Linked DNA regions of Homo sapiens. The protein of the gene in region 3 purifies or fractionates together with the protein of the main gene of each other region. This does not show direct contact. Each region holds a gene or a part of one and is shown on either strand. Other genes may lie near its edges.

Evidence for each region.
Region 1: the proteins of DTWD1 (region 3) and SPATA33 purify together in Homo sapiens (affinity purification with mass spectrometry; one large-scale study listed by BioGRID and IntAct). This does not show direct contact.
Region 2: the proteins of DTWD1 (region 3) and GALM purify together in Homo sapiens (affinity purification with mass spectrometry; one large-scale study listed by BioGRID and IntAct). This does not show direct contact.

Annotation. Positions count from the first base shown.
Region 1 is NC_000016.10:89,664,205-89,667,862, forward strand, and holds part of SPATA33 (spermatogenesis-associated protein 33), read left to right. Parts: intron 1-3,658. UniProt on the Homo sapiens protein: Plays an important role in sperm motility and male fertility. Required for sperm midpiece flexibility and for the localization of sperm calcineurin to the mitochondria. Promotes mitophagy as well as acts as an autophagy mediator in male germline cells.
Region 2 is NC_000002.12:38,668,987-38,672,644, reverse strand, and holds part of GALM (galactose mutarotase), read right to left. Parts: intron 1-3,658. UniProt on the Homo sapiens protein: Mutarotase that catalyzes the interconversion of beta-D-galactose and alpha-D-galactose during galactose metabolism.
Region 3 is NC_000015.10:49,639,047-49,641,697, reverse strand, and holds part of DTWD1 (tRNA-uridine aminocarboxypropyltransferase 1), read right to left. Parts: exon of another isoform or gene 875-2,651; intron 1-874. UniProt on the Homo sapiens protein: Catalyzes the formation of 3-(3-amino-3-carboxypropyl)uridine (acp3U) at position 20 in the D-loop of several cytoplasmic tRNAs (acp3U(20)).

The DNA.
Region 1 (3,658 bases), on a different chromosome or scaffold from region 3:
ATTGTAGAACAAATGATAAGCTCAAAAAAATATTTACATCTATGAGAGGCCAAAGAATATCAGTTGACTCTGGATCAGGGGCTCGGACACGTTGCTGTGGAGGCACACATCTTCCTGGAAGGCGGTTTGGTAACAAGGTGGCAGGACTCAAGACAGCCCACACGATCCCTGCCCCTGGGAAACAGCCATGTGTAACCCTCCCCTCGAGTGTGGGTGGAATGAGGAAGAGGGAGGTGTGTCTCTCCTGCGATTAGCTCACTCATCCATTGAGTTTGACGTCATCAAAATGCGAGATGATCCTGGATGGGCCCGACCTGATCAGGGAAGCCAGACAGTAAAAGTGTCAGAGGCTCTTTAGGGCCCGACCTGATCAGGGAAGCCAGACAGTAAAAGTGTCAGAGGCTCTTTAGGGCCCGACCTGATCAGGGAAGCCAGACAGTAAAAGTGTCAGAGGCTCTTTAGGGCCCGACCTGATCAGGGAAGCCAGACAGTAAAAGTGTCAGAGGCTTTTTAGGGCAGCGAGAAAACGGGAACTTCATTCCTTGAACCGGGAATAAATTCTGCCTCCAACCAGAATGGGCTTAGAAGAGGGTCCTCCAGCTCCTCATGAGAATGCAGTGCAGCCGGCCCCTGGAATTCAGCCTGCGTCCCAGCCACGCTGCACCTGCACCCCTGACGACGAATGCAGTAAGATGATAAGTGGATGTGCTGGTTTCAGCCCTGAAGTTGGTGGTGATTTGTTGTGCAGCAATAGAAGTACACACAATATGTACCAAGAACCTTGAGAAGAGTCACATTTATTCTTTCTGTTTTGTTTCTGAGATGGTCTCACCCAGGCTGGAGTGCAGTGGCACCATCTTGGCTCATTGCACTCTTGACGTTCTGGGCTCAAACGATTCTCCCACCTCAGCTCCCTGAGTAGCTGGGGCCACAGTGCACGCCACCACCCCCAGCTATTTTTTGTAGTTTTTGTAGAGATGCGGTTTTGTCATGTTGCCCAGGCTGGTCTCGAACTCCAGAGGCCAAGCAATCTGCCTGCTTCAGCCTCCCAAGGTGCTGGGATTACAGGCGTGAGCCACCGCACCTGGCCCAAGATTAATATTTCTTTTTTTTTTTGAGATGGAGTCTTGCTCTGTCGCCACCCAGGCTGGACTGCAATGGTGCATCTCTGCTCACTGCAAGCTCCGCCTCCCGGGTTCATGCCATTCTCCTGTCTCAGCCTCCCGCATAGCTGGGACTACAGGTGCCTGCCACCACGCCTGGCTAATTTTTTGTATTTTTTTTTTTTTTAAGTAGAGATGGGGTTTCACTATGTTAACCAGAATGGTCTTAATTTCCTGACCTCGTGATCCGCCCGCATCGGCCTCCCAAGGTGCTGGGATTACAGGCGTGAGCCACTGCGTCTGGCCTAATATTTCTAAATGAAGAAACTATACTTTGAGGAAGATGAAATAAGTCTTGTTTTAGACTAGAAAATTTCAATAGTGTAAATACGTTAACTTCTGTAAAATCAGTCAACACCAAGTCAAAACACAAAAGATCTTTTGGGAATATGAGCAGATTATTCAAAGGTTCATCTAAAGAATAAAAATGAGGCCAAGTGTAGTGATTCACGCCTGTAATCCCGGCACTTTGGAGGCCGAGGCAGGTGGATCACTTGAGGTCAGGAGTTCAAGACCAGCCTGGCCAACATGATGAAAGCCCATCTCTACTAAAAATACAAAAATTAGCTAGGCGTGGTGATGGGTGCCTGTAGTGCCAGCTACTTGGGGAGGCTGGGGCAGGAGAATCACTTGAACCTGGGAGGTAGAGGTTGTAGTGAGCCAAAATTGTGCCACTGCACTCCAGCCTGGGCGACAAGAGTGAGAATCCATCTCAAAATAAATAAATGAATAAAAATGAAAGCAGTAGGAAACATCTGGAAAACCAGAGGCATGAGGGGGTCGGGCCCTCTGATACTCAAGTAGGTTAGAGTAAAAAAAAGCCAGATATGGTGATGTGGGAATATATGGTCCCATAGGTGGGATCTGTGGTTCCAGCTACTCAGTGAGGTCCGAGGATCACTTGGGCCTGGGAGGTTAGGACTGTAGTTTGCTATGATCACATCCACGAATAGCCACTGCGCTCCTTCCTGGGCTACAGAGTGAGACCCTTCTCTAAAAATGGAAGAAAATGGCCGGCACAGTGGTTCATGGCTGCTGTAATCCCAGCGCTTTGGGAGGGTGAAGTGGGAGAATAACTTGAGCCTGAGAGTTCGAGACCAGCCTGGGCAACATGGCAAAACCGTGTCTCTACAAAAAATTTCAAAATTAGGTGGGTGTGGTGGTGTGTAGGGTCCAGCCCCACAGGGTCGGTGGGTTTTCTCCCCATGTGCGGAGATGAGAGAGCGTAGAAATAAAGACACAAGGCAAAGAGATAAAAGACAGCTGGGCCCGGGGGACCACTACCACCAAGCCGTGGAGACCGGTAGTGGCCCCAAATGCCAGGCTGCACTGATATTTATTGGATACAAGACAAAGGGGCAGGGTTAGGAGTGTGAGCCATCTCCAATGATAGGTGAGGTCATGTGGGTCATGTGTCCACTGGACAGGGGGCCCTTCCCTGCCTGGCAGCCAAGGCAGAGAGAGAGGAGACAGAGAGACAGCTTACGCCGTTATTTCAGCATATCAGAGACTTTTAGTACTTTCACTAATTTGCTACTGCTATCTAAAAGGCAGAGCCAGGTGTACAGGATGGAACATGAAGGTGGACTAGGAGCGTGACCACTGAAGCACAGCATCACAGGGAGACGATTAGGCCTCTGGATAACTGCGGGCAAGCCTGACTGATGTCAGGCCCTCCACAAGAGGTGGAGGAGCAGAGTTTTCTCTAAACTCCCCTGGGGAAAGGGAGACTCCCTTTCCTGGTCTGCTAAGTAGTGGGTGTTTTTCCTTGACACTGACGCTACTGCTAGACCATGGTCTGCTTGGCAACGGGCGTCCTACCAGACGCTGGCGTTACCACTAGACCAAGGAGCCCTCTGGTGGCCCTGTCTGGGCATAACAAAAGGCTCACACTCTTGTCTTCTGGTCACTTCTCACCATGTCCCCCCAGCTCCTGTCTCTGTATGACCTGGTTTTTCCTAGGTTATGATTGTAGAGCGAGGATTATTATAATATTGGAATAAAGAGTAATTGCTACAAATTAATTAATGATATTCATATATAATCATGTCTGTGATCTAGATCTAGTATAACTATTCTTATTTTATATATTTTATTACACTGGAACAGCTCGTGCCCTCGGTCTCTTGCCTCGGCACCTGGGTGACTTGCCGCCCACAGTGGTGCGTGCTGGTGGTCCCAGCTACTTGGAAGGCTGAAGTGGGAGGATCATTTGAGCCCAGGAAGTTGAGGCTTCAGTGAGCCATGATCATGCCACAGCATTTCAGCCTGGGCCACAGACCTTCAAGATCCTGTCTCAAAAAGAAAAAGGGATATCGCTCAGTGCTTAGTGCAGCTGTGGGTCATTCGGCAGCTGACACAGATGAGGCTATGTAACGCAGCACTGCAGGCAGAGGGGGAGGCCAAGGCCTGAATACCCCGTCTGACTAGCCTTAGGCAGGCGACTTGGCCTCTCTGCCTCCCCCATCTGGTTAGCCTTGGGCAGTCGAGTTGGC
Region 2 (3,658 bases), on a different chromosome or scaffold from region 3:
AAGTTAAATAACTTGCCCCAAAACACACAGCTAAGTAGTGGCAGAACCAAGACTTGAATCCAGACAGTCTAGCTCATGAGTCCATGTTCTTCAGTATCAAATTATGTGAAAAGCGCAGGCTTTCTGGTTATTAACCTTACCTCCATCCCTAGGCACAGGCCAGGCTGATCTCTCTCTCTCCTATTCCCACCTCTCCCCACCTTCTTCTCTTTCTGAAAATAGCTTTAAAAGCCCATACACTGGTTAACCAAAAGGAGTCCCAAAGAGCCAAACAATCTTTCCTTGGTTTTGTTTCATCCGCTTTTCAGAAGCTCAAAAATTATAGAAAAGCAGAATTTTTTTTCTAAAAAACAAGATGTTTGACTGTAGAGATTTTTGAGTCCTACTTTGATTCATTCAACAAGTGAACACTGAGCTCCCGCTCTCTGCCAGAGGCACACTGGGTGTTGGAGACAACCACAAAGCCAACAGCAGGGCTCCTACCACATGGGCTTGCAAGAATTCCCTTACAAGTGACCACTACCCAAAACCAATCACGTCATGAAGATAAGAAGCACTTGCCAGGCCAGTTCCTTGGTTTGGAGGAATAGGGTTTTTTTGTTGTTTTTTTTTTTCCCCATAATTATCAGGGTTTTTTTTGTTTTTGTTTTTGTTTTTTTGAGACAGGGTCTTTCTCTGTCACCTAGGCTGGAGTGCAGTGGTGCCATCACGGCTCATTGCAGCCTTGACCTCCAGGCTCAGGTCCCCACCTCAGCCTCCCAAATAGCTGGGACTACAGGCATGCGCCACCACACCTGGATACTTTTTGTATTTTTTCTAGAGACAGAGTGTCCCTGTGTTGCCCAGGCTGGTCTTGAACTCCTGAGCTCAAGTGATCCTCCCACCTAGGCTTCTCAAAGTGCTGGGATTACAGGTGAGAGCCACTGTGCCCCTGGAGGAATAGTTTTTAAGAATTTAAGCACAGCAGAAATCCTGTCTCTGAAAAACCCTTTAGAACAAATAAATTTTATACTACCTTCAAATGTTACTGATACGCTTTGGCTTTGTGCTCCCACCCAAATCTCATCTCGAATTGTAATCCCACCTGGTGGAGGTAATTGGATCAGGGGGGCGGTTCCCCCATGCTGTTCTTGTGATAGTCAGTGAGTTCTCACGAGAGCTGATGATTTAAAAGTGGCAATTTCCCCTCCTTTCTGTCTCTCTCCTACTGCCGTGTAAGATCTGTCTAGCTTCCTCCTCGCCTCCTGCCATGATTGTAAGTTTCCTGAGGCCTCCCCATCCATGAGGAACTGTGAGTCAACTAAACCTATTTTCTTTATAAATTACCCAGTCTCAGGCAGTTCTTCTATAGCAGTGGACTAATAGTTACTAAGCTTTCACATCAAATCGGAATTACAAAAGTGACAATCCCCAAATCCCGAATAAGGCATGGCTAAAAATTTGTTTTGAAATGCAGAAAATACTATTTTTCATGAAAATGTTCAAAGTTCCTAGGTCAAGCCATGAATATTGATTTAACCAAGTCAATTGCTGAGCTTAGAGTAGAGGAAACGCTTCCCCCTTTCCTGGGCAAGGCACTGGCGAGAATAAATTAATAAATGCTTAATCATGGGATATGGCCCTTTCCACTCCTCTAACAACCCAAGGACCACACTGTGACACCCAATTTGGACAGCCCAAAATTAGCCAGAGTGCACTAAAGTCTGAAATAAAATTACTCACCACTCTCAATCAAAACCCCCATTCACAGAATGACTTATCCTTTGGTTATATGAAGAAAACAATTTAATTAATAAGCACTTTAGTAATCTCAGATAATTTATATACTTTTTAGTGGCTGCTTGCTGTCCTAGTTGAATCTCCATGCCATTTTTTGCAGTGTTAATTAAGTGAAATAAAAAGTTCTAGTAGAGTCAGAGATGGTATTTGGGGGCAAAGGAAAGAAAGGGGATAAAAATGATTAGTTGCTCCCTCTGATCAGAGACGTATCAAATATGTGGTCAGATATGGTTAGACACATATCACAGCCCATGGCTCATTAAATCATCACAATCCATTTGTTTCACGTGAGAAAATAGGTCTGGAGAGTTTAAGTAAATTGCCCGGGGTCGCACAGCTTTAAGGAAGGAAGCAGAACTTTAAACCAGGAATTTTCAATGCTCCCACCAGGGTGCTCCTGGGCGTGAGCGACAATAAACTGCAGCCTCTAACCTGATCCTTTTTTTTCCTCATCCCTGCTTCTGAACCCAGGTTTTCTAAAGGCACTAAATTTACTTTTTCTATTTTTTCCTTAATGCCTCTCATGGCAGTTAATAGCCAGGTCTTTGGTGGCAACTGGGGGAAACATGAAAAGGAAGGCGTTTCAATGATTGTATGGGTAGGTTGTTTATACCTGTGGCTTATAAGCAAATATTTTCAGCACAGGCTTTGAAAGAAATCATAATGACTGTAGGTGGGACATGCCGATGAAAAATATTTTTAGGCTGGGCGTGGTGGCTCACACCTGTAATCCCAGCACTTTAGGAGGCTGAGGTAGGTGGATCACTTGAGGTCAGGAGTTTGAGACCAGCCCTGACCAATATGGTGAAACCCCGTCTCTACTAAAAATACAAAAATTAGCCGGGTGTGGTGGTGCCCACCTGTAATTCCAGCTACTTGGGAGGTTAAGGCATGAGAATCGCTTGAACCCAGGAGGTGGAGGCTGCAGTGAGCCGAGATAGCGCCACTGCACTAAAAAAAAAAAAAAAAAGAAAAACTTTTTTTTTCTTCTTTTGAGATGAAGTCTTGCTTTGTCACCAGGCTGGAGTGCAGTAGCACAATCTCGGCTCACTGCAACCTCCACCACCCAGGTTTAAGTGATTCTCCTGCCTCAGCCTCCTGAATAGCTGGGATTACAGGCATGCGCCACCATGCCCAGCTAATTTTTGTATTTTTAGTAGAGATGGGTTTCACCATGTCGGCCAGGATGGTCACTGTCTCTTGACCTTGTGATCCACCCACCCAGAGTGCTGGGATTACAGGCGTGAGCCACCGTGCCCGGCAAAAAACATTTTTAAATACAAAAAAAGGTTGAAAAACTCATAGGAGGCATTACTGATTTTTCTAGGCTGTTGTAGCAGGACGAGCCGCAGACAAAACTCCTTAGACACCGGATTGAAGAAGGCAGACTTGCGTCTCAAAAGCCGAGCTCACCGCGTGAGCAATTCCCGTCCCTTTTAAGGGCTTACGACTCTAAGGGGGTCTGCGTGAGAGGGTCGTGATCGATTGAGCAAGCCAGGGGTACCTGACTGGGGGCTGCATGCACCGGTAATCAGAACAGAACACAACAGGACAGGGATTTTCACACTGCTTTTCTATAAAATGTCTGGAATCTATAGATAACATAACTGGTTAGGTCAGGGGTCGATCTTTAACTACCAGGCCCATGGCGTAGTGCCGGGCTGTCTGCCTGTGGATTTCGTTTCTGCCTTTTAGTTTTTACTTCTTTCTTTGGAGGCAGAAATTGGGCATAAGGCAATATGAGGGGTGGTCTCCTCTCTTACTGTAACTAAAAATTTATATAATTTTCTTCTTTAGAATTCTATGAAAGAAAAAAATCCCATTTTCCCAGGGAGAAACTGAACCATTCTGACCTCTGGTTATGGCTGTCATCCAAACA
Region 3 (2,651 bases):
GTGAACCCAGCAGAACAACCTATCACGAAAAAAGTGATAAACATTTAATAGACAAATGAAAACTGAACATACGCCAACAAGAGACCAAATTAAAGGAATTCCTAAAGGATGTATTTGATAAAACACTGAGTAAAGAAAATGGTAAACATCTATGCAAATCCAGATAAATGTTGCCTGTATAAAACAAAAACAATAATAATATCTAATTTGTAGACTGACAATAAACGACAGACAAAAATAATGATATTAACAATAACAATGTGAACCAGGAGGAGGCTGAATGAAGCTTCAGCATACAAAGTCCATACAATGTAAAAAAGGAGAGGTTAAACATTGTTTGGCTTTGAACTTTTTAAGTGATATGGGCAATTCTCTAAAATAATTGAAATAGGAATAAAAATAGAATAAGAAAAAACCTCAATCAAAAAAAGAAACAAAAATTATAAAAAAGGACAAATAGAAATAAAAATTAAGATGGTAGAAAGTAGATCCAATTATTTCAATACTCACAGCAATTGTAAATAAACTAAACTTAATATTTAAAAGACATAGATTATCAGATTGAAACGTGAGAAGGATGACCCCTACAATTAAATAACTGGCTTCAATTAAATATTGCATTAGAGGTCTTTCTTATTTAACATAGTAATAAAGAACAATAAATTAATTAGAAGGATAAGAACTGGAAAGAAATGCAATTGGCATTACTTACACAGAAAATACAAAAAACCTCAGGCAAATCATTAGCCACATAGTATCTTGCAGAAGAGAAGGATTCAAACAAGACACAAACATAGTGATAAATTCCACACTAAAAGTTTTTTTTCCTCAAAAGAAAAGAAATTGAAAAGATGAACCACAAACTGCAAGAAGATATTTTGCAACATTATCTATATTCTAGAATATACAAAGAATTTCTACAAATCAATTAAGATAAAACACAGAAAAATGGGCATAGATATTTCACAGAATAGGACACGTATATGGCCAAATAAACAATGTAATTATCAATCCTATTAGTAATTAGAGAAAAGTAAATGAAGATGACAATGAGACACCATTTTAAAATACTAGGTTGGCAAAAATCAGACATTTGATAATACCAAGGTAGGAGAGATTATGGATCAATGGAGCGCTTATACATTAATGATGGAAATATTCCTTTGTATGTCCACTTTGAAAAACAATTTGGCATTATCCTGTAAAGGTGAATATTCTCATACTCAACAACTCAGCAATGTGACTCCTAGGGATGTTTCCTAGAGGAGCTTGTACTTGCACAAGAATGTGTGTAGTAGCATTATTTGCAATAGGAAAAACTAGAAATAACCAAAGTGTTTCATTAGCAGGAAACCAGATAAACTGTAGTATATCACAGATATTATTCAGCAGTGAAATAGAATAAACTATAGCTACAGTGATATGACAATATATATAAACCCTAGAAACAAAATGTGACTTTAGAAAGCAAGTCCCAAGAAAACAACACACAGCTCAAAATAAAGCAAAACTAAATCATATATAGTTTATGAAAACATATATATAACACTATAATCTAAAAAAGCATAATTCAGGAAAATAACTGTCAGGGGAAGAAGGGGAATGGCACAAGGGAAAACATAGGTAAATGGAAGTTAGAAATACTGGTGCTTGAGTTCTTAATTGTTCATTATATCACTATGCTTTATAACTTAATGTTACATATACGTGTGTGTGTGTATATATTATTTCATATGTATCACAATTTATTTAAAAATATAAAACAGTTAAAAACAAACAAACAAAACCTCTTTGCTTATTTAGTGAAGGAATTGGAGCTTGAAGTCATGTCCCAGCCCAATTCTTTCCATTAGACTTAAAATACAATCTAATCATGTCAATGACAAGCTTAAAAATTTTTTAATGATGCCACAGCACTATGGATAAAAGAACAAATGCCCAAGCATGCTGAATAAAATATGACATTCATAATTTGAATTTCTCCAGTCTCTTTTACCATTCTCATATATGTATGCATTCTAGACAACATTAAATATTTCAGTTTCTTGAATGCAAAATATTTTTTATACCCTAGTATTTCTAACAATCAGTAACTTTATAATAAAATTATAGTAAAAATCGTAAACATTTTTTCTTGAGGTGGGATTTTGCTCTGTTGTCCAGGCTGGAGTTCAGTGGCATGAGCATAGCTCACCGCATCCTTGAACTCCTGGGCTCAAGCAATCCTCCTGCCTCAGTCTCCCAAGTACCTAAGACTACAGGTGCACACTACCACGCCTTGCTAATTACTTTATTTTTTGTTGAGATGTAGGCCTTGCTATGTTGCCTAGGCTAGTCTAGAACTCCTGTGTTCAAGTGATACTCCCACCTTCATCTCCCAAAGTGCTGGGATTACAGGAATGAGCCACTACACCTGGCTCAAAACTAGTAAAATATTTTAGCAGTAGAAACTTAAAGTAGATAATTACAAATGGCTTTTCCTTCCAAAAGTGCTGCCTCAGTTTCTTCAATTGCAAAGTGAGGGTGACATCCTTTACCTCATATATTTGATGTGAGGATTGAATAAGGTAGTATAGGACACAGCACTCACTGACAGGGAGTGTAGTTTAGGCAAAGCTTATAATATGAATAAAGTTATCACTTTAAAAGTT